Regions from separate parts of the Homo sapiens genome. Here all the other regions are reported to be linked to region 3. Evidence: microRNA targets listed by miRTarBase, many of them from high-throughput screens and not tested one by one. Region 3 holds a microRNA gene; each other region holds the end of a gene's coding sequence.
What was found. Region 3 holds the annotated microRNA hsa-miR-103a-3p (AGCAGCAUUGUACAGGGCUAUGA, at 2,230-2,252, opposite strand). A microRNA usually pairs through its seed, bases 2 to 8, with sites in the 3' UTR of a target mRNA and lowers its output. Matches are read on the target gene's strand: a 7mer-m8 pairs with bases 2 to 8, a 7mer-A1 pairs with bases 2 to 7 and ends in A, and an 8mer does both.

Region 1: the mRNA of CACNA1C is a reported target of hsa-miR-103a-3p. Seed matches in the 3' UTR shown: 7mer-A1 at 2,295-2,301.
Region 2: the mRNA of MED13 is a reported target of hsa-miR-103a-3p. The part of its 3' UTR that is shown has no 7-base or 8-base seed match.
Region 4: miRTarBase lists SUN2 as a target of hsa-miR-103a-3p. Seed matches in the 3' UTR shown: 8mer at 1,927-1,934.
Region 5: miRTarBase lists ZNF680 as a target of hsa-miR-103a-3p. The part of its 3' UTR that is shown has no 7-base or 8-base seed match.
Region 6: the mRNA of CFAP45 is a reported target of hsa-miR-103a-3p. The part of its 3' UTR that is shown has no 7-base or 8-base seed match.
Region 7: the mRNA of HAUS3 is a reported target of hsa-miR-103a-3p. The part of its 3' UTR that is shown has no 7-base or 8-base seed match.

Annotation. Positions count from the first base shown.
Region 1 is chr12:2,690,600-2,693,709 of GRCh38, forward strand. CACNA1C (calcium voltage-gated channel subunit alpha1 C) reads left to right here. Exons shown (of 47, transcript NM_000719.7): 47 at 301-3,110. The coding sequence ends at 600. It overlaps CACNA1C-AS1 (CACNA1C antisense RNA 1), which reads right to left and starts at 558. Exons shown (of 4, transcript NR_045725.1): 1 at 470-558; 2 at 208-380. RefSeq lists a silencer at 1,018-1,287.
Region 2 is chr17:61,943,947-61,947,056 of GRCh38, reverse strand. MED13 (mediator complex subunit 13) reads left to right here. Exons shown (of 30, transcript NM_005121.3): 29 at 40-140; 30 at 457-3,110. The coding sequence ends at 589. Among named protein-coding and RNA genes, the nearest start is that of INTS2, 18 kb to the right of the region's middle.
Region 3 is chr5:168,558,675-168,561,784 of GRCh38, forward strand. MIR103A1 (microRNA 103a-1) reads right to left here and starts at 2,299; the gene lies at 2,222-2,299. PANK3 (pantothenate kinase 3) reads right to left here. Exons shown (of 7, transcript NM_024594.4): 5 at 2,719-2,842; 6 at 358-483. MIR103B1 (microRNA 103b-1) reads left to right here and starts at 2,230; the gene lies at 2,230-2,291.
Region 4 is chr22:38,733,638-38,736,738 of GRCh38, reverse strand. SUN2 (Sad1 and UNC84 domain containing 2) reads left to right here. Exons shown (of 18, transcript NM_015374.3): 18 at 359-2,005. The coding sequence ends at 472. It also overlaps a transcript of GTPBP1 not described here. Among named protein-coding and RNA genes, the nearest start is that of SUN2, 21 kb to the left of the region's middle.
Region 5 is chr7:64,518,558-64,521,667 of GRCh38, reverse strand. ZNF680 (zinc finger protein 680) reads left to right here. Exons shown (of 4, transcript NM_178558.5): 4 at 1-1,790. The coding sequence ends at 507. Among named protein-coding and RNA genes, the nearest start is that of ZNF680, 43 kb to the left of the region's middle.
Region 6 is chr1:159,869,784-159,872,893 of GRCh38, reverse strand. It overlaps CFAP45 (cilia and flagella associated protein 45), which reads left to right. Exons shown (of 12, transcript NM_012337.3): 12 at 331-530. The coding sequence ends at 409. Among named protein-coding and RNA genes, the nearest start is that of VSIG8, 8.7 kb to the right of the region's middle. RefSeq lists an enhancer at 2,924-3,110.
Region 7 is chr4:2,229,078-2,232,077 of GRCh38, forward strand. It overlaps HAUS3 (HAUS augmin like complex subunit 3), which reads right to left. Exons shown (of 6, transcript NM_001303143.2): 6 at 1-3,000. The coding sequence ends at 2,850. It overlaps POLN (DNA polymerase nu), which reads right to left. Exons shown (of 26, transcript NM_181808.4): 3 at 22-166. The coding sequence starts at 154. Among named protein-coding and RNA genes, the nearest start is that of HAUS3, 12 kb to the right of the region's middle.

The DNA.
Region 1 (3,110 bases), not on the chromosome of region 3:
CTGGGTGACAGGTGTGAGCCACCGTGCTGGGCCATAAGCAAGTCTTCATATATTTGATGACAGTGTTTGACCACCCCAGCCAAAACTTCTCTGGCCTGCACATCCCTAATTCTGGCAGATGCTCCATCTCCACTTGTTCCCCATGGGTGCCCCTCCCAACACACACACGTACACGTGCACACACGCACACTTCCCCAAGTGACCTACCAGATACCCCCTCGCTCTAGCCCTCAAGGGAAGAGCTGGGCTCCAGGAGTAATGTTCCTTTGGTTCTTCATGGCTCCCACCCCGCTCCTTCAGGTCTTGATTTCAGAAGGACTGGGGCAGTTTGCTCAAGATCCCAAGTTCATCGAGGTCACCACCCAGGAGCTGGCCGACGCCTGCGACATGACCATAGAGGAGATGGAGAGCGCGGCCGACAACATCCTCAGCGGGGGCGCCCCACAGAGCCCCAATGGCGCCCTCTTACCCTTTGTGAACTGCAGGGACGCGGGGCAGGACCGAGCCGGGGGCGAAGAGGACGCGGGCTGTGTGCGCGCGCGGGGTCGACCGAGTGAGGAGGAGCTCCAGGACAGCAGGGTCTACGTCAGCAGCCTGTAGTGGGCGCTGCCAGATGCGGGCTTTTTTTTATTTGTTTCAATGTTCCTAATGGGTTCGTTTCAGAAGTGCCTCACTGTTCTCGTGACCTGGAGTTAACCGGAACAGCGTCTTCATTCATTTCTGTTGGGACCAGACGCGGAGCCTGGGTGCGCGAGCCGCCCTCCGGGAGGAAGGCGCCCGGCTGCGTCTGCAGAGGCGGGGAGAGGAGGCGGCGAGGGTCCCGGGGCGCGAGGAAGGCGCCTGCCCTCTCCCAGCTCGCAGGCCCCGGGCCCGGCCGCGCCTCCGCGGGGAGAGCACCCCGGCTTCCCGCGCGCCCTCACCAAAAGGACCCTACAGCAAACGGGTGTCTTTCGACTCTGCTTGTAGAAACCATTTGCACATATTCTGTACGAGCCTCGCTGTCTCCCTAGAGCCAGGGCCCTGCGGATTTGGAGAAGGGAGCGGGGCAGGACTTCCAGGAGGACCCCAACCCGGCCCGGAGAGGGAGGAGGAGGCCTCCAGGGGCGCGGAGCTCTGGGGATGGGCGTCGGGCCGGCAGTGGTGCGGCTCACTCCGTCCCTGCCCACCTGCGACGGGATCCCCCGACCGGCACGGGCCACGCCGAGCTCCCGGCCAGCCGCCGGCCCGCAGGCAGCGCGAGGGAGGAGCTGCGCCGCCGGCTCCGCCCAACCAGGTGGTGCTGAGCTTCCGCTGAGCGCTCTTTTGTTTTGTGGTTTGACACTTTTCTTGACAGCATGTTGCAGTTTCTTTTCGGTTTTGGTTTTTTTTAAATGTTTTATTTTGCTTTCCCAGCGGGAGGGGAGGAAGAAGAGTGTTTACAAAGTCCTGTAGCCCCCTCACCTTTCTGTTTTCACTTTTGCCAATGTACATCGGGTTTGGTTTTCTTGTATTATTTAAACGGTTGTGGTTTCCTTTTTCCACGGAGGTTCAATAGAAGCCGCTGCAGGAGAGTTTTACCAACCATTGTGTATGCCCAATAATTTGTTATCATTTCCTTAGGTAGTAACCTATTTTTGTTCTGGTTTGGTTCGGTTATCTAATGGAAAGGTAACTGGCAATGCACTTGATGTGGTCTTGCACATGTGGGTGATAGAGTTGGGTTCCTTTTTATGCTGGGTGTACAGGTGGGTTTGGGAGAGAGGAGCATGCGCGAGAGAGTCTCCGAGTGTGTGCGACGCGTGTGTGTGTGGTGGGTTGTCTGTGTGCATATGTCCTGCCCGTGTATATGCACCCACACCATGTGCCCGTGCACACCAGTGACTACGCAGTCCCCCCTTTCTGGTTTAGCTGTGGGAAGATCTGAATCTGGGGCCGTTTGAAAGCAAAAACAAACCACTGTCTCTGCTTCTGAAACGGGAATCAGTAACTCTTTGCATTTTCTGTCCCACAAGATATGCAAAAACAATGCAATAATATTCATTTAAAAATACAATTGTGAGTTGTGTTGGCATTAAAACTGTATTTTAAAAAAAGACAGAAATTTAAGGGAAAAACACAAGAAGGCATTTTGCTTCAATATATTCCGTGTAATGTTTTATTGCATTGATAATGTTTCTGTTGAAGAAACCGTTATACTTGAATTCAGGTCAGTTTCAGTATTTTTCAAATATTTTTTTAAAACTGAATTGCAATTGTGCCAAGCGAATATAATGAATTGAATTAAGTTGGTTTTCGGATTCACTTCTTGTATATTTTGCTGCATGTAAAGTAAATCATTTTGTATTTGGAGTGTGACAAGCTTTACCTTTGAACTCAAGTGCTTTTCTATATGTGGTTGGGGGAAAGGGAACAAGTTTTCTTTAGTTTGCACAATGAGCAAAGGTATCACCAGTGTAGTCATTATTCTGCTCTCCACAAACAGGTTTGGACATTACTGTTTTGCATATCTTGTGTTTGCTTACATTTCCCTCAATTTTTCCAAAATCGTTTGCTGGGTATGTTTGTACCGCCTCTTGCTGTGAGAGACCAGGACCTATTTTATTCCAGTCTTCACTCTGTCCACTCTGCTCTGGTCATCTGATTTGGTACTTCTCCAAGAACAGCCCTTCACTGTGAGGTGCAGGGAGGCGTTCTGATGAGCCCTCAGTCACTGGGCCGTCATCCGCATCCCCCATGGAAGAGGTAGCTGGCTTTCCCTTCCCTTCCACCACACGGAATTTTCTCTTTGGCTTCCTTAGGAAAGTGTACACTAACCGGGAGGATAAAATTAAAGTCAGGCTGCTTGGAGGGAGGGGCATCCTCACTTCCGGATTCTTGTTGCTCTACCCAACAAGGACAGCAGGGGCTCGAGAAAGGAACTGGTGAAACCCTGATCCATCTGAAAGTCAACTCTGCGTGCTCCTTTCTCCATCCCTTCCTCACTCTGGAGCAGCCTTTCCTTCAGGCTTGCCCTAATGTTTGGGCTGCCGGGGAGGGGGCCAGGACAAGGGAAGAGGCATCCGGAGCTCACAGTGGGGGTGGGAACAGATTTTTGTGGGGGCATCTCTAATGCTCACTTATATCTCCCTAGA
Region 2 (3,110 bases), not on the chromosome of region 3:
CTGTTTGGCTGACTGATTGATTACCTGTTACCTTCTTAGGCCTCTTTGCACCTCCACGTGCCTTCAGTGCAATCTGACGAGCTGCTTCACAGTAAACACTCCCACCCACTTGACTCAAATCAGACTTCAGATGTCCTCAGGTACAACTCTTTTACCATTAACAGTTTGTCACTGCAACTTTAAAAGAATATAATGTTGATTCTTATATATTTTTCTCATTTTTGGCAAGAATTTACAGTTGTGTACCAGTGGATCTCTAGATAAACACTGCTATTCTAACTTGAGTAATCTACTTTTGAGAATAATTTTTATGGAAATTGCTTCTTTCCCCTCAAGGACTCTCTGTTACACTCTTTTTTAAGGTGACTTTGAGTCTTAAATGCCATAATTGAAAACTGCTTCCAAAATCTAGGTTGGAAATAAATAAATGACTTATGCAGTTTATTTGCTTTTCAGGTTTGTTTTGGAACAGTACAATGCACTCTCCTGGCTAACCTGTGACCCTGCAACCCAGGACAGACGCTCATGTCTCCCAATTCATTTTGTGGTGCTGAATCAGTTATATAACTTTATTATGAATATGCTGTGATCTTCATTTGATGGAACTGTGCAAGAAAAGAACAAGGAAAAATGGATGTTTCGCTGCAGGATTAAGTTACAATTATCTTCTCAGTGAAGGTCATTTGTGATGGGGTCTAATTCTTATTACTTCAACAAATATTGTTTTGACTTGGGGGGAGGGGCTATAACCCTGCTATTTTTCATTGACTCTATTGAACTCTTTAGGATGATGACTGATCATACAAAACGTATTATAACATTTTCGTAGCAAAATTAACCTTTTTTTTTTCCAGTCACAGTATTTGTGAAAAGTAATGAGCCATAGTACCCAGTCATGTTAAATGAATATTAAAAGCATGGAGAGGAAACATGAGGAACAATGAATTTCAACATATGGCTTCAGAACATGAAGATGTTCTTGTATGGATTATAGTATCTAGTATTCAAAAATGCCTGCATCTCTTCTCTTATTTATTGTAAGTTTTTAAATGTATAAATTGTCTTATATTTCTTAACCTCTTTTATAAAAATTTTCCTAGAAGGTTTATACTGCCTTCTTGCTTTAAAGCAATTGGTCTAAAATATATGTAATCGTCTTAATTAAAAAGTTGCAGTAGGGTTGCTTTTAGAGTATTATTTTTTTGTAAGGGGGTGGGTGGGACAGTAAATTTGTATTGTCTCGATGTACAGTTTAACGGGGATAGAGGGGGAATAATGTCCATACCATTGTGTGTGGAGGATTTACAGCTAAGCTGTAGTTGCAGAGTACATGTACAGTAATGAAGTTCACTGTGTTTATAAATTGAAAAGGTACCAGGTCTTACAGCATTTTATATATCACATCTTTACAGAATAACATGATGGCAATATACAAGTGGTATTGTTAGGTGGTTTAACTTAGAATAAAATGAGAATTCTTCAGTTATATTTTGTACTATGGTTTAGGGCTATGACTAATATTTCAGGCCATTTCCGGTGAAAGAAACTTAGTTTTACAAGAAAAACCATTTGCTACTGAATGCTTAAACTAATTTTAGTGTTTAATGTTACATGCTTAAATTTTTTTCAGTTTTAACAGTGGCATATTTAGGCATGGAAATATTATTATGAAATTTATTTTCAGGATCTGCTATAAGGTTGAAATTTAGCCCAGCTCTAGGCATTTTACAAATTATTTTTCAAGCAGTCATTCTTGATTGTTTGACTTTTTTTTTTAAATTAAAGATTGGGAATGTATGTGAGAGTATGCATATGTATGGGTGTGTGTGTGTGCGCGCAATCAAACTGTGGTGTAAATAGATTCTCAGTGAATTCTGGTATTCAGACTCTATTCCACTAGTGAAAGAACCATTTTTTAAACTTCCCTTGCCTTTTTTATTTATTTAATTTTCTTGGTTTGGAGATGTCAGTCCCAAACACCAGAGTCTGTACTTTTCTATAACACAGCTCAGATTAAGGTAGGGCATATGCCAAGGAGGTTCTCACCTCCCTAAAGAAGGGACTTGAATTTTAGGGACTTTAATTCACCCCTCCTTCAATACAACTTTCCCCCTTCTTGTTTGCACATGCCAAGATAACTGCTTTTATGCAGGCTGTACCCCCTTGAAAAATCCTTTCTACAGTGCTGCTCACAAAAGAGCCCAAGTTCGCCTCCTACCTGCATTGCTGACTTGAATTCACAGTCGCCGAGTCTACCTAGCTTTCTTGGAAGCAGTCTAGCAAAATTTCTATTTGTACGTTCACTAATTATCTACAAGGACAAAATCAGTTGTATTTACAAAACTCTACTTCAGTGTTTGTTTTAGTTTTTTTTTTTACTGAAACTTGTTTTTGTGAATACTCTGTGCTTAGAATTAAATATCACTTTCTTATGAACAACATAACTTCTTCAGATTGTGTATATGAAAACATTAGCAAGTCTTGTTTTTTCTATGAAGCAAACACAATTGGTGACAAAGGTTGTCAATCATTTCTTCAAAATTATAATGCAGTTCTAATGGTCAGCATATTTTGATATTAAATTTAAAGATCACCTCTCTGCATTTGTTTTTAAATTATGCTAATACACCACACATTATGTTGGTATGTTTTGTTCTGTACTTTCTTTAAAAAAAAAAAAAAAACTTGTCTGAGATTTGAAGGAAAATGTGCTTATTTGGAATTTCCATAAAAAGAGTATCCTTTTTATACACTTAATAGTGACTTTACAAAATAAAAGTTATATTCTCAGTTGTTTAAAATCACTAACCTATGATAACCACACCTCAATTTGAAAGTAGATTTAAAATTATTCCCTGACAGGTTATTTAATATGGAGCCATAAGGAGGGAACCCAGTACACAATTATTTTTTATTTGGGAATCAGGGAATAGTTCCCAAATATACAGGATTTATTGATAAGATTTTTTTTCTTCCCTTCATATATCCATTCAAACTCAATGGAAAGTTATTAAATAACCATTAGAAAAGCTCAGTAGACTTATTTGAGAAATTAAGCCTTGTGCAGGATGATGGATTTGACTTACTAATGTACTGTCACAGACAAATAT
Region 3 (3,110 bases):
TCCCCACAACTGAAACTGAAGCGAAGGAACCAATATTCTACTACTTAAGGCTGGGCATGGTGGCTCACACCTATAAAGGATTGCTTGAGGCCAGGAGTTCCAGACTAGCCTGGGCAACAAAGAGTGATCCTGTCTCCACAAAAAATATTAATAAAAATAAATTTTCTGGGCACAGTGGTGCATACCTGTGGTCCCAGCTACTTGGGAGGCTGAGGTGGGAGGATTGATGAGCCCAGGAGGAAGAGGCTGCAGTAAGCCATCATTGTGCCACTAAACTCAAGCCTGAGTGACAGAGCAAGACCCTGTCTCTTAAAAAACATGCTATTAAAATTCACAAAAAACATTTTCCTACCATACCTCATGTTCTAGAAACAATGCTTTTAGTTGACCTTTTGACCAGTAATCCAGTGCATATGCCAAAAGTTTCATTGAGAGGGTATTGACACGTAAAAAGTTTCCAACAAAGACAACTCTGTTTATTTTCTAAAAGAAAAGAACAAAGAAAAAACTTGTAAAAATAATAGATTTTACAATATAAAAGGTTTCTAAATATTTATTTAAAATTTATTTTAAAATGCAAAAAAACACAACTACGCTTTATTAGTATAACACCTACTACATTCCTGGCATATAGCTGTATAATCCTGAATATTTAAAAATTAGTTCTGCACACATCATCCAAAATCCACAAAATGTGTAACACCAAGAGAGAACCCTAAATTATGGACTTTGGGTGATGATGATGTGTGCACAGGGTTATGGACTGTAACACATGATCACTCTACTATGGGATGCTGAGGATGGAAGTGGGCTGTGTGTGTATGGAAGGTGGTATATGGGAACTCACTGAGCTTTCCACTTAATTTTACGTGAACCTGAAACTGATCTAAAAAATAAAGTCTACTTTTAAAAAAAGGTTCCAGAAAGACTCTAGCAGATGATTTCAGGTGAGATTTGTTTTTGAAAATGGCCAATAAATAGCCCCCTTACAAAGTCATTTGGAGACACATTACTGATGTGATTAAAAAAAAAAATCAAAACATGGTAAGTACTATAAAATGCATTTAGTTGATAAGTAGCAAACTTGGCCCACACATTGCAATGCATGTTGAACAATGACATGCAACTGTGGATTCTACAGAATTGGAGAGTAATACTGACTGGGGTACTGGCATGTGCATTCCCCTAGGATTCTAGCATTCTTTCTCCGTCCCCTGCCTGATTCATCAAATCATTCTCTCTCTGCAAAGATTCCACACTAATTTGGTTTCTTAGATTATCTCTATGATTAGGAAATCTTACAAAGGGGAACTGGTGTTTGAATCACCAGAAAACTTATTTCGACTCTCACACTATACTGACTTTTGAGTAGAAATCTTTGTACATAAGTTGGGATACTGTAAACCATGGCCTAAATTATTGTTAACTCAATTGGTCAGTGGAAATTTAGACATAAAGGGCTAAGAATAAAGGTCTCAAATTGTTGTCAGCTCCCAACATGGTCTACTAGTAACTCCATCAACCAACTAACACTTAAGTTTCTAAGTTATTAAAAAACTGATGAGACCAAGTTCTGGATTTAAATACAGAATAATTCAGAGGATTTGCATATTTGTTCTCTCTGCTGGAAGCTTTCTCCCCAAAATGTCTACATGCACAGTTTCCCCCTCACCTCCTTCAAACCTCTGCCTAAGAATCACATTTTCAATAAAGCTTTCCTTTAACCACTCAATTACTTAGCAATTTGTCCTCTACCACTCTCTGCCCTATTCCCAATCCTCTTTATCCTGTTTGATGGTCTCTTTTTAAAAAAATAGCACTTATCACCTAATACACACTACACAATTTACTTAATATGTCACTAGAATGAATGCAAGCTCCACAAAGCCAGATCTTTGTTTTCTTCATTAATATGTTCCAAATACCCAGAACGATGTCTGGCATCTGGTAATCAGTAAATATTTACTCAATGAATAAATGAATGAATGAACAAATGAAGGGTTCCTTCGAAAAGCGTACTTCCCAATCCATTTAAAGTATTTGATATTTATAAAAATTAAACGGGCAAATATATCTATTATTATATAAGGAAGCTAGAATTAAATATATATATTCTCTTCCAAACAAAGAATCCCAACTATATGGTCAATCTAACAGTATATCCTTTTCACACTTTTCTTGTAACAATAAACACCACTCAAATATCATGAAGAACAGGTCTCAATGCCTTCATAGCCCTGTACAATGCTGCTTGATCCATATGCAACAAGGCAGCACTGTAAAGAAGCCGAGGGCAGTAAGAAAACTTCCAAGAATTTCACTAATCAAATGCAACATTAAGCACTGGTGGTATAGTGGTGAGCATAGCTGCCTTCCAAATGCAAAATTAAGACTAAAAAAAATGCTTTCACAAAGTATCTCAAAATGTCTTATGCTTAGAACTTTCTTTTACATCCTCAAGGGATTTAGGTTGTGTTTTTCTGAAAAAAAATTCTGAATAAATTTCTCCTATTTCAATTTGAATTATCTGCTACTTTCTTTAAAAGTAATATAGCAACTGGATACGTAACATATATACCTAATGAGTCTTGGCATTTAATGGGTTACATCTCAATCCCAGAGGCCTCCTTAGGGAAAGTGAAGAAGCCCTGCTAGGTGTATATAGGACTCCAATTCACATTTTTGATAATTCAAGTTTTGTGTTTTTTGTTTTTTTACCTCATTAACAGCACACATTCGTGCCACAGAACCAATGTTATTGGTGATAGTAACTAAAGTAGCTCTTGCCAGATCTTCTTTACTAACAGATTCTCGCTTCTCCTTATAAATCATATTCCCAAAACTGCAGAAAAATGAAAAATAAAGTCAAATCTGCTGATAAAAAGCAACATTTTACGTATTAACAGATATATCTACAACCTGGATATTTTTATAAAATTAGGACCAAAAAGTAGAAACACATAGGGATAAGATCAAAACAAACTAACAAAAAAAATCTATGCAAGAGTAAAGTAATACCTTTCAAAGAATTAAGGTTAAAATGACATCTCAAAAAAAGCATAGTTAGTTATTATAAGAAAGCAAAGATTACCAAAATATCTTCACTTAAA
Region 4 (3,101 bases), not on the chromosome of region 3:
GCTAGACAGAGGCCCGATGGGCACTGGAGAAAAAGAATCAAGTGTGCCCCACATCAGCATCTATGAAGCCCTCTATGAAGGTGGTTCTATCTGTTGATCACAATAAAAAAACGATTGTGGATGAATTCATTCCGGTTTCAGATGAAGTGTGCTACAGGTGGCCCCTTAACCCACTGGCTGGAAACACTGCTCAGGAGGCTAAAGATAGGAGCTTTTGAAGCCTGGTTCTCTTCAGAGCCCCAGGGAAGGAGCAGGGGAGCCATCTGGCCCTAGGCGAGGCTGTCTCCCCTTCCCACCTTCTCTGTCAGTGAGGCCTCACAGGTCTCTGATGCTCTTAATCCCTTTCTTCTCTACCCAGGCCCCTACGATGGCCACGTACCAGGTGGTGGAGCTGCGGATCCTGACTAACTGGGGCCACCCCGAGTACACCTGCATCTACCGCTTCAGAGTGCATGGGGAGCCCGCCCACTAGCCCTGCTTACTGGTGCCTGCTGCCAGCCATCTGGGAGTGGGTGAACAGCACCCCGCCGCTTCCCCCACACGCTTGCTCGGCGCTCTGACTTCTAGGAGCACAAGAGAGGAGCCTGTGGCCCCATGCAGATGAAAAGGACGGGCAGGGTCTCCTGAGCAGCAGGTGGCTCGAGGCGGTTAGCAGGCTCCAGCAGCTCCCTTCTTCCTTCCCTCTGTGCCCGTGGCGTCTGCTTCCCATCCTGGGAGTGTGTATATATGTAGCATATCATGGGGGACTGGGAAGTTGGGAGAGGTAGGACCTGACTGGTCTTGGCTGGGGTCAGGGGCTGGTGCCTGGGAGCTGATGAAGCAGGTGCCAGGGCTGTGGGAGGGGCAAGCTACGGCCTGGGCTAGGTGAGCTGCCTCTGCCCCTGGGCAAGGAAGCGAGGCCCTCTGGGAGGAGGGTGCTTAGCTCCAGAGCAGGATGGGACTTCCCCAGGCAGGAAGCACTTGATGGAGAGCTGCCCAGCTCTCCTACAAGGTTAGTGCCCTCCACCTAGGGAAGCATGAACCACAGGGTCCCTGAGGGCCTTCGACAAAAGTGTGTATTTGTCCCGGGGAGGGTAGCAGTGGGCCATGGGGCTTCTTGTGCCCTAAAGGGGACTGGCTGCTGTGATCTTCTAAGGGGCCCAGGGCCAACCCTGTAGGCTTCCCCTCTGCTGGGGACGGTAGTTGCTTTTCTCTCTCCTGATGCTAGGTTGGGGCCCACCCTGCTCCCTGTTCCTGCTAGGGCCTGCCAGTGCCCCTGAGCTTGCTTTCCACATTCTCCCAGGGTATGGAGACCTAGACCTGTCTTTGGGGCCATTAGCATCTGGGGTTATAGCAAGAAGAGTGGGGAGCATGGAACTCCTGGGCTCTTGTGGGGACGTTCAGGGTATCGGGGTGCGAGGTCTGTCTGCACCGGCCCCCACATCTAACCAGGCCCTGATGTAGGGGTCGTCCGCTCAGGCTGCCCCCTTGGGCTCTTGCAGCTCTTGTTCAGGTAGTCGCCCTTCTGGTTTGTTCTCTGTGGGGCAGTTGGTGGGGGCTGGGGGAAGAGGCTGGCAGAAGTTACCCTGGATAGGGAAGGGGGAGGAGGGGACTTTTAGAGCCAGCAGGCCCCACTGTATTATGTATATATTTTTCAAGGTCTGTTTTTCTAACTGAAAAGCTAAGGGCTTGATTCCTAGCCCCGTTCTGTGGGGCACTGGGTGATACTCAGTTTCTTGTTCCTGGCCGTGGAGAGGGGCCTGGGGCACTGGTTCCGGCTGTGTCTGGTGGTCTGGCTGCGGGGAAGGGGCAAGAAGGCGGGCAGGCCTTCACTGCAGCACTGAGCCTCAAATCCGCTCTGGAGCATGAGGCTGGATGCAGTGGTGGTGAGGCCGCCCCGCTCCATCCCGAGGCAGCCAGGGTTTGTTTTGCGCTCTCCTGTCACAAATGCTGCACTATTGGTTCTTAAGTTTTTTATCTCCAGATCCTAATTTATGCCTATGCAAAAAATAAATGACGCCCAAGAGCTGTGGGATGTGGCTTTCATGTGGCTTTTGCCTATCACCTAGGGCAGCTGCTCTTGGGCAGATGAGGGAATGAATTCTTGGCCAAACGAATGTCCCCAAAGACTTATTCCTGAAGTTCAGAAACCCACAACTTTCAGCTAAAGCCCAGTTGTGGTGGGGGATGGGACCTGAGGCAGGTCTCCTCCAGTGTTTGTGGGTCAAGGGCTGGCATGAGGAAGCAGTGAGGTGGCTTTATTAGCTGTCATTGATAACCCATCACAAAGGGTGGGGCGGGAGCAGTGGGGCTTTCCTGTCTCTCAGTACCACTGAACAGCAGCAGAAAAAGTTACACTTACCTACCAGCCACGTCCACTTGGAGTGCAGTGATTCTCCTCCATGGGAATTCGCTATTTGCCCCTTGGACCTGTGACTGGGAAGGGACAAGGAGGTAGGTCCCTTGAACAGCCAGCAGCTTAGGAGAAAAACAGGCCCTGACCTTTCCCACAGATAGCTCCCCAGACCTGGTTCGCGTGGTTCTCTAGCCTGATCCTGGAGCCTCTCATACTGACCGTGGCACCTGGCCCAGGGCTGCTCCTCATCATGGCTGAGAAAACAAAGGCAGAAAGCCAGTCAGTAGGGAGGACTGTGGAGACAGCCACAAGGCAGGAGCTGGGTGAGGCACAAATCCAGCCCCCAAAGCCTTGGGCCAGCTCCTCAGCCTCTTGGGAGACAGCTGGTCCTGTGCTCACTCCCCTTCACTGACACCTGCTCTGCCTCTGACGCCATCTAAACAAAGGAGACATCCCCACGCAGCACCAATAAACAAGCCCCTGGAAGTTGCCACACACTGTGGCAAGAGTCCAGAGCCTGGGCTGGGCACATGCCCTCTGCCCATCTGTACATTCAAATCCTACTGGGCCCTCACAGCACAGCCCTCACACTGCCGGCTCCATGGTACTTCCCCCAACCCAACTAAACCTGTGCTGCCCCTGTGCGTGGCATATTCATCCCTGTGACCTTCTCTGTGCCAGGGTGGCTGATAAGCCAGAACAGTCCTGACTGTGGAGTCAGGGGTCTGGCCATCCCCATCCCACCATCACAGGCCTTACTCCTGGG
Region 5 (3,110 bases), not on the chromosome of region 3:
GCAAACCTTACTAGACATAAGAAAATTCATACTGGAGAGAAATCCTACAAATGTGAAGAATGCGGCAAAGCTTTTATACAGTCCTCAAACCTTACTGAACATATGAGAATTCATACTGGAGAGAAACCCTACAAATGTGAAGAATGTGGCAAAGCTTTTAATGGGTGCTCCAGCCTTACTCGACATAAGAGAATTCACACTAGAGAGAATACCTACAAATGTGAAGAATGTGGCAAAGGCTTTACTTTATTTTCAACCCTTACTAACCATAAAGTAATTCATACTGGAGAGAAATCCTACAAATGTGATGAATGTGGCAATGTTTTTAACTGGCCTGCAACTCTTGCTAATCATAAGAGAATTCATGCTAGAGAGAAACCCTACAAATGTGAAGAATGTGGCAAAGCTTTTAACCGGTCCTCACACCTTACTAGACATAAGAAAATTCATACTGGTGAGAAACTCTACAAACCTGAAAAATGTGACAATAATTTTGATAACACCTAAAACTTTTCTAAACATAAAAGACACCATCCTGTTGAGAAACCCTAAAAATGTGAAGAATTTGACAAAGCCTTCCAATGATTGTTACACTTGCTTGTAGGTAAGATAATTTATATTGGAGAAAACTTTATAAGTGTAAAGAATGTGACAAAACTTAACCAATACTCACATCTTATTGCACAGGAAAGCATTTTTACTTGAGAAAGATTGTACAAGTATAAAGAATGTGAAAAAGTCATTGATATCTTTTCACATCTTACTCAACACCAGAGTTTATACTTATTAAAAGCATTATAAATGCAATTACTGTCAAAAGAAATTTCAGAAAACATAACACTTTAAAGTGAAGAAGCGTGTTTATTTTGAAGACAAACATAACAAATATAAGGAGCATAGGAGGGTTGTAGTACCTTTACTTGTATTACAAATCTTATTGTACGCATTTTGTACTAGAGAAAAACACTGAAGCAGTTGCTCAAACTTTGTTCAACATCAGGGAATTTATATTGGAGAAAAATCCTGCAAATGTAATGAATTTGGAAAAACATTTTTTTTCAAAAACTACGGCGTAGAAAACATGAATTTATATTGAAATGTGTTTTTGCAGATGCAGTAAGTATGAAAAATATTTAATCCAAAATTGAGTCTATGTAAATATTAAATAATTTACAGTAGAAATAACTAAGGCACTGACACTTTAGACATTACACTAAAACAGAGTGTTGAGTATAAAAAAATCTATAAGTTGTTAGATTATTTGTAAATAACTTTAAAAGGAGTAGAAGATTCTTTGGAGAGTTATAATTACATTGAAAGTATACTTTTTTTCTTGAAAAAATTATGGCTTATTTGAAAAGTAAATAATGATGAAATTCAACTCTCAAATTACTTTATTTCATTCCTATTGTATTCACATGTGAAAGCATGTGATAAATTGTTGCTGTGTCAGATATAGGAGAGATTCTTTTTTATTAGATGGGCATTATTTATGGTTTTTTCTGTGGAAGAGTATGGGCATTAAAATGTAAGGTTTATGATGAAAATCTAAGTGGAGAGGCCCTGTTAGTTTACTTTTCATATTGAGTGATGCATGAGGTAGGTGTTTGGAGTAATATTCTGCATCATAGAGAAAAGCATTTTTAATTTTACTTTAAATTAAATGTAATTAAATTACTAGTGAATCATTTTACTAATTGTACTTTTATGCTATAAATGCAGTACATTTGAAAATTTTTAGATTATGTATAAGCTTAATTTTATAATTAAACATTTCTTTAACATGTTAAGACTATTGTGCATTCAATGAAGCGTTATTATGCCATTAACTTTAACCTTTTTCACTTTACTCAAGGAGGGAGGTAAAAGAGAGTAACAATATGTTATTTGGTCATGAGATGTTAATCTTTCTGTGCCTGGCTTATTTCAACTAATATGCTGTCCTCCAGATTAACTGATGTGATCAAAAATAATAAAATTTTCTTTTAGATTCCACATAGCAAAAGCAAGAGTAAGAGAAAAGAACAAATCTGGAGGCATCACATTACCTGACTTTAAACTATACTATAAAGCTTTAGTCATCGAAACAGCATGGTGCTGGTATACAAATAGGCACATAGACTATAAACGTGTGTGCAAGTATCTTTTTTCATATAATGCCTTTTTTTCCTCTGGATAGATACCCAGTAGTGGGATTGCTAGATCAAATGATAGATCAACTTTTAGTTCTTTAAAAAAATCTCCACACTATTTTTCATAATGGTGCTAATTTACATTCACACCAGAAGTGTAAAATTGTTCCCTTTGCACCACATCCCCACCAACACTATATTTTTTTATTTTTTAATTATGGCCATTCTTGCAGGAGTGAGGTGGTATCATATTGTGATTTTCATTTGCATTACTCTGATAATTAGAGATGTTGAGCAAGTTTCCATATGTTTCTTGGCCATTCGTATATCTTCTTTTGAGAATTGTCTATTCATATCCTTAGCCTACTTTTAAATGAGATTGTTTTTATTTCTTGCTGGTTTATATGAGTTTTTTGTAGATTCTGGATCTTAGTCCTTTGACAGATGTATAGATTGTGAATATTTTATCTCACTCTGTGGGTTGTCTGTTAACTCTGCTGATTATTTTTGCTCTGCAGAAGCTTTGTAGTTTAATTAAGCCCCATCTGTTTATATTTGTTTTCGTTGCATTTACTTTTGGGTTCTTATTCATGAAGTCTTTGCCTAAGCAAATGTCTAGAAACGTTTTTCCAATGTTATCTTCTAGAATTTTTACTGTTTTAGGTCTTAGATTTATGTCTTATGTCTATCTTGAGTTTATTTTTGTATAAGTTGTGAGATGAGTTTCCAGTTTTATTCTTCTACATGTGGCTTGCTAAACATCCCTCCATTATTTGTTCAATAGGGTTTCCTTTCCCCACTTCATGTTTTTGTTTGCTTTGTCAAAAATCTGTTGGCTGTAAGTATTTGGTTTTATTTCTGGGTTCTCTATTCTGTTCCATTGGTCTATATGCCTATTTTTATATCAGTACCATGCTGTTTTTGTGACTATGGCTTTATAGTATAAAGTTATGTAAACTTTAGGATTGTCTTTTCTCA
Region 6 (3,110 bases), not on the chromosome of region 3:
ATGGCACCACAGGCTGGAAAGCATGGGGATTTGGGGGTGAAGGGCCATGGCAGAGATGCTCAGGGAGAGGCTCTTCTCCCCACCCAGGGCTCATCCCTCTGAAGGGGGCTCCAGCAGAAAGTCCTGGGATGGGGTCTTGCTGGCTCTCTGGGAGCTCCTTGGCAGGATGCTGGAGCCTTGGCATGAATGTGTGTTTCGGGGGTGGATTGTGAGAGCAGGGTTGGGGGGTGCAGGCCCCCAGGTTCTGTAAACCCCACCCAGAGCCTGCTTCCTCCCACCTCCTGTCTGGTCCAATACCTTTCCTTATACCTGCCTGCGTTTCCCCGGCAGAGCCACTGGCCTTCCCGAGAAGTACTGCATTGAAGCTGAGCGCAAAGCTAACATCCTGCCAGCTACCTCTGTGAACTGAGGGGAGCCTTCGTGGCCCTCAGGATGCCTTCGGGGGACAGATTCTGCCCAGTCTCTGGGCATCCATAATTGCTGCTAACCTAGACATTTCATAGTTACAGATTAAATCTACTTGACTTTAAGGAACAGCTTGGCTTTCTTGTGGGAATGTGGCTGCTACAGGGTACTGAAGGTGGAGTAAAATAGGATGGGGGGAACCCGAGTGTGGGTGGTGTGGGGCTGAGGGTAAGGGAATGGGAAGATGCTCTTTTATGATGGTTTCTCCTAAGCCAGGAGGTCCCTTTGTCCTGGTGTCTCCTGGCCTTTTTGTGATTCCCTGGGATCACAATCTTGTCTCAGCTCCACCCTGACGCCCAGTTCAGAAGCATTTCAGGGCATTGAGGCAGAGCTACAGTTGCCTCTCAGTGGGGGCTGGGGCAAGGCTTGGCCAGGCGGAGCTGGTGAAGGAGGCACCAGGGCCAGGTGAGGCAAGGCTCTTACTGGGATCACACCCATGACTCAGATCACATCTGTGGAGGGAGTGAAGTTTGAACCTGGGGCTCACTCTGCCTGTCTCAGCTCTCTCCCACCAGAACCCTTTCAATTCCAGGCAATGCTGCAACACAGACACAGGCCCATGCCCCACTAGGGCACACCAAGAGCCCTGCACTCCCCACCCTGCCAGTCCAGTCCCCTCACCCGAACTCAGCCCCTCCTGTGGCTGGGCTCTCCTCAGTCCACCTCACTCCCATAGGTGGGGCTCCCAAACCATTTTCGTCTGTTTTTAACTTGTCTCACTTTGCCCCAAACTATACTTTAATCATTCATTCACTTATTCAGATACTGACTGAGTGCCTACCACATGCCAGGTACATTTCAGGCACTCACTGAGCACAACAGACCTTGCTGCCCACTCAGAAGCTGCTCATTTATGCCGGTCTGCTCCTGTTTTCTCCCCTGAGCTGCTCCCACCAAATTTCTTGTACCTTTGGAATCATCTCTGCCTTTTTGGCCTCTCACCTGGTTGTCAGGTGCCCCTTTGGGGCTGGACTGCTAGCTTCTAGGGATGGAGCCATGTACCCTGTTTTTGTATGCCTAGGGGAAAGGGCTTTCCTCCAGCTGCTGTGACATTGAGGTCCCTCTCTACCCCTGGGGATGGATTCATCTCTCAAATCCAGAGCCCAGTCTTGCCTTCCCTGATGGGCCCTGCACTAGAGGAGGTGAGGAATCTGTTGGGTGCATCCTGGATGTTTACAACTCCAGGTTACAAGGGCCTCAGGCAAGAGTCCTCTTTTCATAGGGCCCAGGGAGAGTCAGTAAGCTGTTTCCTGTGCTTCCTTTTCCTCAGGACAGCCACAGCTTCCCCAGGTGCCTTCTCCACCTTTTCCACCAGGAAAGATTGTTGCCCCGCCCGACCAACTGTTTGGGAAAGAGGCTTTCTCACCGTCCCTGCTCAGCACCTTTAACTGCAACCCTCCTTCCTAGGGAAGCTGATGCCTTCCTCCCTAGGGGTCTTGGGAAGATGTGGTACCCAGCCTCGGATGGGAGAGAAGACATGGCAATGCCGCTGAGGATTCTGGGACTCATCTGCAGTTGGGGCACTGGCAAAGGTTCTCTCTGAGCATCACCTGTTGCTTAGCTGATGCCTGCAGGGACCAGGGAACAAGGCTTTGCCTAGTTCAGGAGACACTCTTTCCCAGGAAAGCTAGAAAGAGCCTGGGTGCTTAAGAGTTTGCCTAGGCTCACACCTAAGTCTTCCATCTCAGGGCTGGAAAAAATGGGCCACTATGGAGAAAGGATTGAGGAGAAAGGGGGTTCCACACCCACTGCTAACTTCTGAGCCCACTTAGACAAAAATGGGCCAACATCACAGGTTGACAGTAAGGCCAGCATTTGACCAGAGCTGCTGCTGGTGAAAATGTAGGTCTTTGGGTCCGGGAAGATCCCAAAGCCTTACTAAAAGTGAGTGAGACTGTCGACTGGGCCTGGACACAGGGGCAGTTATAGGTTACGTGAATAAAGGTCTGGCTTTGGAGAAGAGAGAATATAGCCACTTCTGAGCAAGTGAAGATGGTTTGGGAGAGAATCTCAGGGCTCTGCCTCAGGGTTGACCCTTTTACTCTCATCAGGAGTTCTCCATCTTGGAATTGGCCCATGAAGTAGAACAGAGTTTCAATTTCTTCTCTTGGGATTCCTAAGAAGTCACACCCAGGCTTTCATGGGCTCCAGAACTAGTCTGAACCAGTAAGAATCTAGTTCTAAGATGCCTGACACTCTTGAGAGCCAGGCAGGTAGTTGGGATCTGAGGCCAGTCAACTACATCTCAGCAATCTTTTATAAACCCTCTACCAATCTCACTCAGAAATGGCAGTGGGGATAATTACAGAGAAATCTCCCAGTGTTAAGTGGGGACTGGTGGGGTTAGGCTGCATGATAGTAGTGGCAGACTCAGCAGGACACTGTGTGAGCTGAGCCTGCAGAGTAAGGCTAGGGCCTGGAGACAAAGAGAAAATGGGCATTCTTCTGAGGACTCCAGTGGGTTCCTAGGCTCAGTCTTGCTGCTAGAGGTTGGACCTTTAGTGGAGGTGCTTTCTGCTGAGGAGGTTTAAGCTTTCCCCTTCTCATGCTCAAAGGTGGAGATGGTGAGCTCTGTGTACTCCTCTAAGCCACTGAATCAACACAGGGCTGTGTGAGAGGCTGTAAGAGATAAGTAGGAAGTGCAG
Region 7 (3,000 bases), not on the chromosome of region 3:
AGGTTCATAAAAATTACTTACTCTCTGTACTCTTTCCCCAAGTCTTAGAATCCACTAAATCACCTGAATGCATAGCAGACATAATCTTCTGAGCAACACTGGAGAGCGGTGTATTACAGAGATCAAAGCCTACCAATGCCTCATAATTTTCCATTTTCACAAAATCCTAAATGTAAGATTAACATAAGATAAATCCCATATATTAATCCTAAGACTATAAAACAGGAAATACAATTATTTTCAAAAATTTATATACCAACTTTCATTTAAAATGTCTATATTCATAACCACAGAAAATAGGCATCAATCATCCAATAATATAGATAGAAAGAAAAAAGCAAAATAGCTAGAGGCTTAATCCAGGTATCATAGTAAATAGATAACTTATTTTCTAGGTGACCAATTTAGAAGCAATCTACTCAAATACATCCTGAGGTTTGAAAAATGTTATTAAATCTTCAAATAGGCTGAGCGCGGAAGCTCATGCCTGTGATCCCTGCACTTTGGTAGACTGAGGCGGGTGGATCACCTGAGGTCAGGAGTTCGAGACCAACCTGGCCAACATGATGAAACCCCGTCTCTACTAAAAATACAAAAAATTAACCAGGCATGGTGGCACCTGTAATCCCAGCTACTCGGGAGGCCTGAGGCAGGAGAATCACGTGAACCCAGAAGGCAGAGGTTGCAGTGAGCTGAGATCATGCCACTGCACTCCAGCCTGGGCAACAAGAGTGAAACTCCGTCTCAAAAAATAAAAAATAAATAAATAAATAAATAAATCTTCAAATAAACCTACCTAGTAACACAACGATTATAAGTAACTTGGGTAATTACGGCAGACACACAACTACCATCCGTGCCTTGATCTGCCCTGCTGGCCCCCTGGGCTGAGCAAGTCAAGGTTTGGGTGGGGACAGTATAAATCAAGCATCTGGGCAGGGGCATGGTGGCTTACACCTGTAATGCCAGCACTATGGAAGGCCAAGGCGGGTAGATCACTTGAGGTCAGGAGTTTGAGACCAGCCTGACCAACATGGTGAAACCCCGTCTCTACTGAAAATACAAAAATTAGCCAGGTGCAGTGGTGCACGCCTACAATCCCATCTACTCAGGAGGCTGAAGCAGGAGAATCACTTGAACCTGGGAGGCGGAGGTTGCAGTGAGCCGAGATCATTCCACTGAACTCCAGCCTGAGTGACACAGTTAGACTCTGTCTCAAAAATTAACTAATAAATCAAGCGTCTGGCCACACATCTAAATATGTGACACTAATTTAAACAGAATATGCTACCATAAACCAGGAAACCAGGTGACATATTTTCCACATTTTTGGAGAAAATAAAAATTTTAAGTAAATTCTCTATTCCGAAATAGAATAGAAAAAAACATATACAACAAAAAAAAAGTTGCTCAGGTGATAGGGAGCTGATAGCAAAATCTTAAACAAAATTTACTGCTACAAAATTAAGGTTTACATAAAATTTTAAATAACATAAACACAATAATTGGCAAAATATTTTTGTTCAATGGGTTTCAAAAATCAAGAAGGTTCATCTGTCATCTAGGTATGCCTGTTTTCTGATGGTTATAGCTAAAAAATTCCATAAAGACCACCCAAAACATGTAGTTTTTAGATTGGCATTCCATATTACGAACAGGTGAGGAATATTCTTAAAGGTATTCCTACAAAGCTCACATGGTATTTACCACAGGCCATGTATAAATTGGGCACTCAAGAAGCATCTGATGTAATAACAGATGAGCTACTTCAAATTATTTTAGAGCAACGCTTAAAATATTTTCTGGCTGCCCAAATACCATTGTTAAATACAATTAGACATTTTTGCTCTTAAACTGATTAAAATAGTATCATACATCTTTTGAGCAACCACTTTTACAGAATTTTGAAATTCAAATTTCATTTGAAAGTCATTTATGATGTGTAAGTCACATTAAAGTCAAAGCACTGCTCAGCTGTCTTGTAGAAACTTTTGAGTCCCCAGAATTCAGACTCTAAAATGAATGCAGGCAGGCCAAGGAAGTCCTAATACTCTGTGGTACAAGTAGGGACATTAAAACAGCCTAAAGGTCTATAGCAGGGAATTATGGAGGAATACAATTTGAGCAGCAGAATTTTATTTGACAGTCAAACATGAGGGGACTTGGCTATTTCACATATTAAGGTCTACAGATTTAAAAATGCTGACTAGAAGTTCTACACATTTTAAAATATTTAATAGCGGCTGAGCGTGGTGGCTCATGCCTGTAATTCCGGCACTTTGGGAGGCCGGGAGAGGGGATCAAGAGGTCAAGAGATTGAGACCATCCTGGCCAACATGGTGAAACCCCTTTTCTACTAAAATACAAAAAAATTAGCTGGGTGTGGCGGTGTGCGCCTGTAGTCCCAGCTACTTGGGAGGCTGAGGCAGGAGAATCACTTGAACCCGGGAGGCAGAGGTTGCAGTGAGCCAAGATCGTGCCACTGCATTCCAGCCTGGAGACAGAGTGAGACTCTATCTCAAAAAAAAATTTAACGGCAGAAAATTTCTATTTCTAAAAAGGAGAGAGATAACTATATTAAAAAATATTTGCATTATGTAATAATGCTTTTTCCCTGTAAGTAAAAAATTACCAGGACTAAGTACCACTAAACACATGCTCAAGTCATAAAAAGCACTGGTATTCTGAATGTACTACATGAGAAAAAAGACAAATTAATATAATAGTTCAATTCATCAAATTAAATGTTCCATTGACCTCAAATTTTAAAAATTTAGTAGTGTTTATTATACACAGTCTTCTAATAAATAAAAGAGGACACGTAATAAAGATTCAGTTTTCAGTAATTTTCAATCTTCAAGACTAACAGCCTTAATCTTTGATTGAGTTTCTAAATTCTCCACAATATCTTTCAGATAATCTTCATCTTTTAAAAAATATACATAGAATTCTCTTTCCATTTGATGTAATTTATTATTTGCCAAAGTTTTTCTTTTTGTC